Linked DNA regions of Homo sapiens: region 2 is linked to region 1. The links come from fine-mapping of genetic effects on gene expression. A gene starts in region 1. The other region holds a variant in brackets. All regions are shown on one strand. Distances are between the middles of the regions.

Region 1 (4,396 bases):
CTCAGGAGTTCTTGAGCAAGCCTCTGCTTAGTTTTCCTGGGATGACCAAAACTAACACTGTCCGATCCGTTGTTCAATCCTCAATCCCTAGAACAGAGCTGCAACATAACAGGCACTATAAATGAATGAATGGATAAAGACAGCACTGAAGAACTTGAAATTATAGTTTACACATGAAAACAGTAACATAAATCTGAAGAAATAAAGTTCTTTTTTTTGTTTTTTCGAGATGGAGTCTCGCTCTGTCACCAGGCTGGAGTGCAGCGGTGCAATCTGGCCTCACTGCAACCTCCGCCTCCCGGGTTCAAGCGATTCCCCTGCCTCGGCCTCAGCGTCCCAAATAGCTAGGACTCCAGGCACGCGCCACCACACCTGGCTTTTTTTTTTTTTTTTTTTTTTTTTTTTTTTTTTTTGTATTTTAGTAGAGATGGGTTTCACTATGCTGGCCAAGATGGTCTCAATCTCCTGACCTCGTGATCCGCCTGCCTCAGCCTCCCAAAGTGCTGGGATTACAGGCGTGAGCCACCGGGCCAGGCCAAGTTGCTGTTTTTAAAAGGTATATTTCAACTCACTTCTCTAAGGCGGGAATATACACAGCCTGCCATCAGTTTGACATAAAACAAAAATTTTAGCGTTCTTGTATGCTAAATTTCTTTTACTAGGTTAAAAAAATGTAGAATCCAAAGAGCTGTAAATGCAAATGACAAATACTGTACAAAATCTATCAAGCAACTATAAGTCACAACTTGCAAGCTTTCTCCTCAGCAAATGAGTTAAAAGGAAAAGTATTTGAAACTTTCTTGGTGGAAAACGAATGACCTTTAAAAATGCCAACATTTTCCCCAGAGAATAGATTTGGTCTGAGTTCTTCATTTCTGAAATTGTACAAGATAAGACGACTTGGTTTGAGAGTCAAACTGCATCCTTCTATAAAGGTTTTAGATAAATTTTAAGTCTCCATACAAAACACTCCCCTTATTTTGAGAACAAAAGGAACAATAAGACAGCTTAGGCGGGGCAGAGAAAGAAAGGCCTTGAAACAAAGTCCCTGGAAAGGTAAAAACAACAACAAAAATAGTAAGTTAGAGCTCGTGTTTAGATCTGATAACTCAAAACTGCACAACTTTTGCCATACATCGAAAGCAACATGGGAAAACAGAAAAAGAGATTACAAACATTTTTTGAGTGTCCTAACTTGTAGAACCCCTAAGAATGAATCAAATACACTTGGACAAAGCTCTTCTTTTCTCTCTCTCTCCTTCAAGTCGCAGACTAGGGGTGTGGGGCGGGGGGCGGGGAGTAAGACGGGGTCTCTAATAAATACAAGACCCAGCCTCGGACGTGTTTAATTGCTGACATTTTAGAAGAAAAATGGGCTACTTACAATTAATGAACCAAACTACCAAACTAAAATCATGAGTAGGAGGAGGAGTAAATGGAACCGTCCGGGCGAAGTTTCAGGAAGACGCACGCTGGGGTCGCTGCGCCCTTCCCCACCCATACCTCGGGGCTCTCCAGTCGCTCCCAGCCCCCAGCGCGGACTCTAGGGCGCCGGCGGCCCAACCATACAGACTTGGCAGGATGTAGCCCCCTTCTCCCCTCTCCAGGAGAGAAAAGCGCGAGGAGACGCAAACCGTATTTCCGTGTCCGAGCGTTGAAACCTGCGGAGTCGCGCGCGGGGCGCCCACACTCGTTCCCGGGGAGCCCCAGCCCGGTCGCCCGCCCCGGTCCCAGCTCCAGCCCGGGCCTCCCTTACTCTGGGGCTCCATGGTCGGCTGCTCCCCGGCCTCCGCGGGCGAACCCCCGGACTCCTAACGCCTCTCAGCCAGGGCCGGCGTCGCTACGGTTGCCCTGACAACCCGGAGGCGAAGTGGGCAGAACTAAAGGGACGGCGAGCGGGAGGGACCAAAAGCCGCAGGAAGTGAGGGAGCGCGTGAGGACCCGCGCGTCGCCGGGGACACTGAGCGAGGGTAGCGGCCAGGTCACCGGCTGAGGACACTGCTCCTGAAGCCCGGTCAGGCGGTCGCGCCCTCCCTGGCGGCCCCCGCGGCCCCGCAGGACCTGTGCCCCGACGTCGCCGACCCGCGGTCCCCGCTGTCGCCGACCCGCGGCGTCCGTCGGGCGAGTGGGCCTGCCCGCGGGTAAGGCGCCGGCCCTGGGCCGCCCTCCCGGGAATCGGGAGCCGCCGCTGCAGGTAACAGCGGGGCCCCGGCGGCGGAAGGGGTCGGGGGTCGGCGCAGGGGCGGGCGCGCCCCGAGCCGGGTGGGCGGCCCCGGCGCACCTGTTGTAGCCGCCTGGGGGTCCCCTGCCCGCAGTTGGCCGTGGACGTTCCCCGCCCCGACTCCGAAACGCCGAGGGCGGCCTCCGCGCCTCCTGCTCCGGGAGCCGCGCCTCAGCGGGAGGACGGAGCCCTGCGGGCAGCCCTCGCACCAGGGGCTCCCTCCGAGCCCGGGCATGGGCCGGGCCTGGGGCGGTCCCTCGAGCCCCCCTGACGGGAAGCGTGGAGCAATGCGAGCCGCCGCCGTCGTCGCTGTCGTCCCCAGTGAGCCTGGCGCGTCTCCTGAATCGCGAGAGCCAGGAGCACGGTTTTGCCCGGCTTTGCCCCGTCATCCCCGTGTCCCATTTCAGGCAGGGGGCCCGGGTTGGATCTTTCTCGCTGGCTTCGTTTTTTGTGTGTTGATTTGTTTCAGTCCTTCGCGTTTCCGGTTGAGTTACGGAATCTGCCCACACGTTTTGTGGCCAAACTTTGTAGGGCTGTGAAACAATGTAACATTATCCCACACAATAGTCTTTCATACTGGTTTTAAAACACAGTGATTCAGGGTTTGCTTTAAGGAAGCTTTGAGGATCACAAGAGATTATTATCTGGTAGGTTGTAAAAATTCAAACAACCAGGAGAGTATCATAGGTTCCGGAACACCAGAAGGAGGAAAGAAAAATGGAGACGAGAGAAAAAGGATAAGCAAGAAAGTGCAGGGGCATTAAGGGTGTGGGGGGCTGCAGGATTGATTTGGTATTCAGGTCTGGAGATTATGGCCCCTCTATTAATTCCAACCGCTGCTCCAGACAGTACTTGAGGGAAATGGAAGGAAGAGCCGTTTTGGGGGTCATGGAAGTGATTACTAATCTTGCCAGTAGAAAGATTTCCACTCCATGGATGACAAGGACACTAAGGAGAATTACTTTCCTCTTAGGGAATCATTGAGAGGTTAATTGAACTTGAGAAGCATATATTCTGTGATGGAAACTGACATTTATTATATTCTTCCAAATTAGGTTTTCCCCCTCTCAGACTATATGGGGACTTTTTCAGATTAATTGTCAAAACAAGAAGGTTTATGTGTGGATATTGACAAGCAGCGTGATATATACAGAACACATAATTCTTAAGCTGAAGTATTAAGGTAATAAATTAAGGGTGGAAAGTAAACACTTCATGGAACCTTAACTCCCTGTTCCTGAAATTTAGAGACAGGGGCTTCATTTTTAGACAGAAAGTATAAAGATCAGCAGTACTCCTGTATCCAGTGGTTCTCAAGTTCTAGTTTACATATCATTAGCAAAATCACAAAGCGGTCTTTTCATTCAAGATACAAATAGAGTGATCAGTATATCATAATCAAAAGTGACAAGATAGTGATTTAAAAAACACCTGGCATTTATTGACAAAAGAAAAGGTAGGATTAAGTCTGCTCAAACAGTAAAGGATTAGCATTAGTATTTTTTTAAAAAGAAGAAACAACAGTGCAGGTCTCTATGCTAAAGTAATAAGGACTGAAGAAGTTTTAAGTTTGGAAAAAATGGGGATATGTATTGGTGAAACACTTTGTAATCATATAGAATGATTATTTTATCAGCAGCTGTTAAGTTGACTTTGAGGAAATTTTGAATTGAAATACTTTAGGTGACAAGTAAAGGCAACTGTGAAAAGCAACATTTGATTTTAGGGGACAGGGTACCTGTGAAAGAAGACTGGTTAGGAGTGGAAGTCAGGCGTAAAGGCACTGAAATGTCCGAGGCAGGGACAATATTCAGTTTCTCTTCCTCTATCACCTTGTGCAATGTACCTGTTAAATGTTTGTTGAATGAGTGAGAAGGGCTTTAGAGAAATTGTTTTGGATATAGGGATACACTTTACTATTGGAGAAAACACCCGAGATCAGAAAGTTGCTAATGAGATAGGGGTGGGGGATGAATGGTAAAGACACTCTACCTTTTTGGAGTTTTCTACCATTGTGTTTTATTTCTTTTCACGGGCATGTTCAGTATGTTATTAGTGGTCAAATGAAAAGGAATAAAGTTCTATATATATTTTTTTAAGTCTCCAAGCTCATTACTAGATAGAATAGTTACATTATTGTTTACTTTGCTGATGTTTAACTAAATGTAGCAAACT
Region 2 (4,396 bases), 140 kb before region 1:
TGTTTTCTCCCACCCTTATATTAGTAATTTTTATACAACATGGAGACATTGAAATATTTTCATCAGATGGGGTAGCTTTTGATCCAAATATATTCAAAGACATTATCGCTGAAATGCCAGCTTCATACAAATCATCTTCCAGGTGTCACTACACTGCATTTCTATGGAGCGTGAGAACTAATTTGACAAAATAGAGGTTTTGAGGGAAAAACCAGTATTTATTTTTTAATCTCCTAAGAGTGTTATTAGGTAATTTTTCCTTTGCATGTTTAGCACACTGAGTTAAGTAAACTGTCTTTTGAGTGCCACTATGAGCAAAGTGTAAAAAGTCAAGTCAGTGAGAAGGGGAAACACGCTTGGTCAGCAGGTATGGGATTCTGTTGCAGGTGTGTGCGCCCTTCCCGGCCACCCCGTGGCTTCCAACCCTGTCAGGCTCACCTCGGCCACCTTGGAAAAGGCCTGATGAGGAAGCCGCCAGATTCCTACCCACCGAAGGTGAGTCTTGAGTAGATGTGAGTGCTCAGGGCACACATGCAGACATGAGGTTTTCAATACGAGACTGAATAAGAATGGGATCCTAGAGGCGCTGCCTGTGAAATGCTGAGTCAGCCTCACTAGGTCAGCAGGCTCTGAGGGAGGGTCTCTGTGATCTGGGGCCAGAGGGAGGCCCCACGGTGCCCCCATGGAAGCCCACCTAGATCCTGTTGGCGCACTCAGTGCCCCCTGCATGATATGGTGCAGCATAGTGTGAGCTGTGATCCCTTCAGTCACCCAGACCAGCCACATTTCTGGGGCCCCACTGGGTCTGCAGCCCGAGCTGGCTCCTGACACCAGCCCCCAATGCCAGCCCCACCATGGTTTCCAAATGCCACCACCTGGCTTTAGGTGAGCTGCTTTAGCCCACTGTTACTCTTAAAATATTTTTCAAAAGTTACATGGAGCTCTCAGAATTGACCATTTTGCTCCAGCCCTGAGCTGAGGAAGCCCTGTCCACCCTGTGGTTTCAGAGAACTGGATCCTTAACCCAGAGTACCTCACGGCTCCCTGCTGTCTCTTAACCCTCTTGCTACCCTGGTGAATTACAGCTAGAGTTCATTCTAATAGTTCTTCCCCACCGAGTTTTTCTGATGTACCCACAAGAATTCTTGAATATTGAACTTAGTCAACAAGAGTCCAAATTATAACAGTGAACAAGATTGGTGTCAAAAAAAATAAGTGATTGAAAAATCATTGCTGCATATGCAGTAGGCAATAAACTGTTTTAACTCCCTTGATCCAAAAAACGCAAAGGGTGGGGCTCCAAGGAGGAGGCTGCCATTCCCAATAAGCTTTACCCCTGCTCGTCCCCAAAGGTGGAACCATAAGCGAGAACGGCTTTGTGTGGTAGCCAAAAGCACATCTTCATTTTCGTAAAAAAGAAAAATGCAGCTCTATTAAAAAAAAAAAAAAAGCACAGCCTTATTTTTGAGAGCCCCAAACTAGAAACAATCCAAATATCCATCAACCAGTAAAAGGATAAACAATGGTATATTTGCACAATGGAATGAACCATTGATGTATACAACATTGAGGATGAATCTCTAGATAATTATTCTGAGTAAAAGAAGAAAAGCCAGAGTATATACTCTGTGATCCCACTTATATACAATTCTGACAAATGCAAACTGATAGTGACAGAAAGCAGACTGATGATTGGAGGGAGAGGGAAGGGAGAAGCATGACAAGAAAACTCTTTGGGGTGATGGATGCATTCATTTGTCCACTTGTTTGTTGTGAGGGTTTCATGGGTGTAAACACGTCAAAAAATGACCAAGTTGTATACTTTATGTCAACTATACCTCAATTAAGCTGTTTTTAGAAAGAGAGGAAGGAAGGGGTAGAAGCCTGAGGTATAAGGGTCCCTGCAGCACCTGTTCTAAGAACAAGGGTTACCATATGGGAGAACGTCTCCAACTCCAAGCCCCAACCTCAGCCCTGGCTTCCTGAAGCCGCAACTCTCCTTTCCCCAGTGGTTTTCTCAGTTCTCATTGAGCCTTGAACACATTAAGCTGTATCTTATTTTCACATCTCTTTTGTAACTTCCCTAAGATCTCGGTCCGTGTCTTTCTTTATACTTGGTACTTTTTCAAGTGCTTTGCACCTATTTGTTAAACAGTTTTTTAAAATCTAAACAAAAATCGATCCTTCTA[T/C]TCCAGATTTGGTGGGGTGGAGGCAGGTGATGCTTCTGTTTGAATTTTGAAGTTTAAATAAATACAAAAATAATTCCCCTCTTGTGTACATCCTTGATTTCTTTCCTTTACCCCACCTTGGCCTTCAGCTATAACAGATGAGTTAGCACTGCTTTTTCCTTAAGGAGTTACTGATATTTTTGAAACCCGCTATAGCATGGCTTTTTACTTTGACTGTACAGGACAATCCCAGGAGATTGCTGCAGTGTCAGAATGTTGACATCAGCAGACCCCTCAACGGCCTGAATGTCCCTCAGCCCCAGTCAACTCAGCGAGTGCTTCCTCCCCTCCACCGGGCTCCACGTGCACCTAGCGTCCCTGCCAGACCCCTGCCAGCCAAGCCTGCACTTAGGCAGGCCCAGGTATGCTTTCAGTACTAATATGATAGGATGTAGTTCAAATCCAGATTCTGCTACTTGTTAATGTGTGAGCTTAGATAAGTTGCTTAACTTCTCGGTGCCTCTGTAAAATGGAGATAATTCAGCTACTCAGATGGTTAAATGAGATAATCCACATAAAGCAGTTAGTTTGGTGCCTGGAGTATAATAATAAGAGTGTCATATATTTTAATTTACTAGTTATAATTTTTTAAGTATTTGAATAGTTAGACCACTCATGCAACTAAACGATGACACTATTGAGAATAGCAGAGGGACTAGTAATAATTAGGCCTGTACAGTAAAATAGAGACAGGCAATCTAAGACAGATGGTCACCCTAAGAAGCATCAGTTATACTCTCTCATCATTTTATTTCAAAATTATTTACAAGAACTATACCACCTATATACAGAGTGTCTCCGTACCAAACTTAGCACTGTATTGTTTATGTATATCATCTCATTTTTATGCTGTTTTTGGAAGTAACCATTTCTGTTTGCTGCAATAACGAATGATATTTCACAATAGAAAACTTGAAGGGAGGAGAAAACAAGCAAATAAGTAGGAGATAATCACTGGTAATTTTTCACTGCTATTAATATTTTTTGTTTATAATTGTGTATTTTAACATAATTTATTTGTACACAGTTTTATATGCTGCTTTGTTTTGCCTTAAAAATTAGTCCCATTTACAATGGCATTAAAAATCCTATTTAATAATAACACTATACTTGAATATAAATGTTTAAGTACTTGCAAATTATTGGGCATGTATTGATGTATCATTTTTTGCTGTTAGAAAGTTCTAGAGAGGTAAATCTTGGGACCTCTTTATTCCCCTAGGAGAGATTCTTAAAAGTAAAATATTGGGTTGAAAGATTGTATGACCATTTTAAGCCTCATAATATAAAAATATTTTTTCAGAACTCATATACATTTGCGTTCCCACATTGTTATTGTCTTTCTCACCATGACTTTGCTAACACTAAATTTTAACTTTTACCAGTTTGATAAATACAACAAAATATCTCAATTTGTTGCTGTCTAGTAGTTCTGTCAGTTACCAAGAGGAGATGTTGGACTTTTCCACTATAATTGTGTCTCCTTTGAGTTCATCAGTTTTTGCTTCATGTATTTTGAAGCTCTGTTGTTTGCGATACACACAATTAGGATTGTTGTGTCATCTTAGTAAAGTGACCCTTTTATCATTATGTCATGTCTCTGTTTAGCTCTGGTAATCTTTGTTCTAAAATCTACTTTATCTGATATTATTATATCCACTCCAGTTTTATTTTGATTAGTATTAGTGTTGTCTTTTTGCAATCATGAATGATATTTCACAATAGGAAACATCATTCATGATTGCAGCAAACAGAAATGGTTACTTCTAAAAACAGGATAAAAAGCAAAGTATGAATTTTTCCATCCTTTTAACATACCTATGGAATTACATTTGAAAAGCGTTTCTTGTAGACAGCATATAGATTTTTTCATCCATTTAGCCAGTCACTATATTTTAATAGGTGTGTTTAGAACATTCATATTTAATGCAATTGTTGATATGTTTGGATTTAAGTCTACCATGTTAATATTATTCTGTTTGTTCTCTCTGGTTTTTGTTTCATTGTGCTTTTTCTGTGTTCCTGTAGATTAGTATTCCATATTGATTTATCTGCATTTATGTTTTTGAGTATATATCTTTGTATTTTTTTTGTATGATTACACTAGGGCAGTTTCTCAACCTCAGCATTTTGACATATTGTACTGAATACTCTGTTATGTGGGGTTT

Direction of the effects. Positions count from the first base shown, and alleles are read on the strand shown. Sizes are in standard deviations (SD) of each study's normalised expression.
For the expression in testis of the gene that starts at base 1,848 in region 1, C is the low allele of the variant in region 2 and T is the other (small effect, 0.21 SD a copy in GTEx).

What was found. PIP is the estimated chance that this variant, and not a neighbour inherited with it, causes the effect. A credible set is the group of variants that fine-mapping cannot tell apart.
Region 2: its variant is the best candidate, but not a certain one, in a credible set for the expression of FANK1 in testis (GTEx, PIP 0.55).

Annotation. Positions count from the first base shown.
Region 1 is chr10:125,894,016-125,898,411 of GRCh38, reverse strand. It overlaps FANK1 (fibronectin type III and ankyrin repeat domains 1), which reads right to left and starts at 1,848. Exons shown (of 11, transcript NM_145235.5): 1 at 1,757-1,848. The coding sequence starts at 1,769. It also overlaps a transcript of DHX32 not described here. RefSeq lists silencers at 1,278-1,572, 1,664-1,803, 1,964-2,043, 2,264-2,343.
Region 2 is chr10:126,034,340-126,038,735 of GRCh38, reverse strand. It overlaps ADAM12 (ADAM metallopeptidase domain 12), which reads left to right. Exons shown (of 23, transcript NM_001288973.2): 20 at 387-495; 21 at 2,411-2,590. Among named protein-coding and RNA genes, the nearest start is that of FANK1-AS1, 63 kb to the right of the region's middle. The variant T/C (reference allele first, on the strand shown) is at 2,190.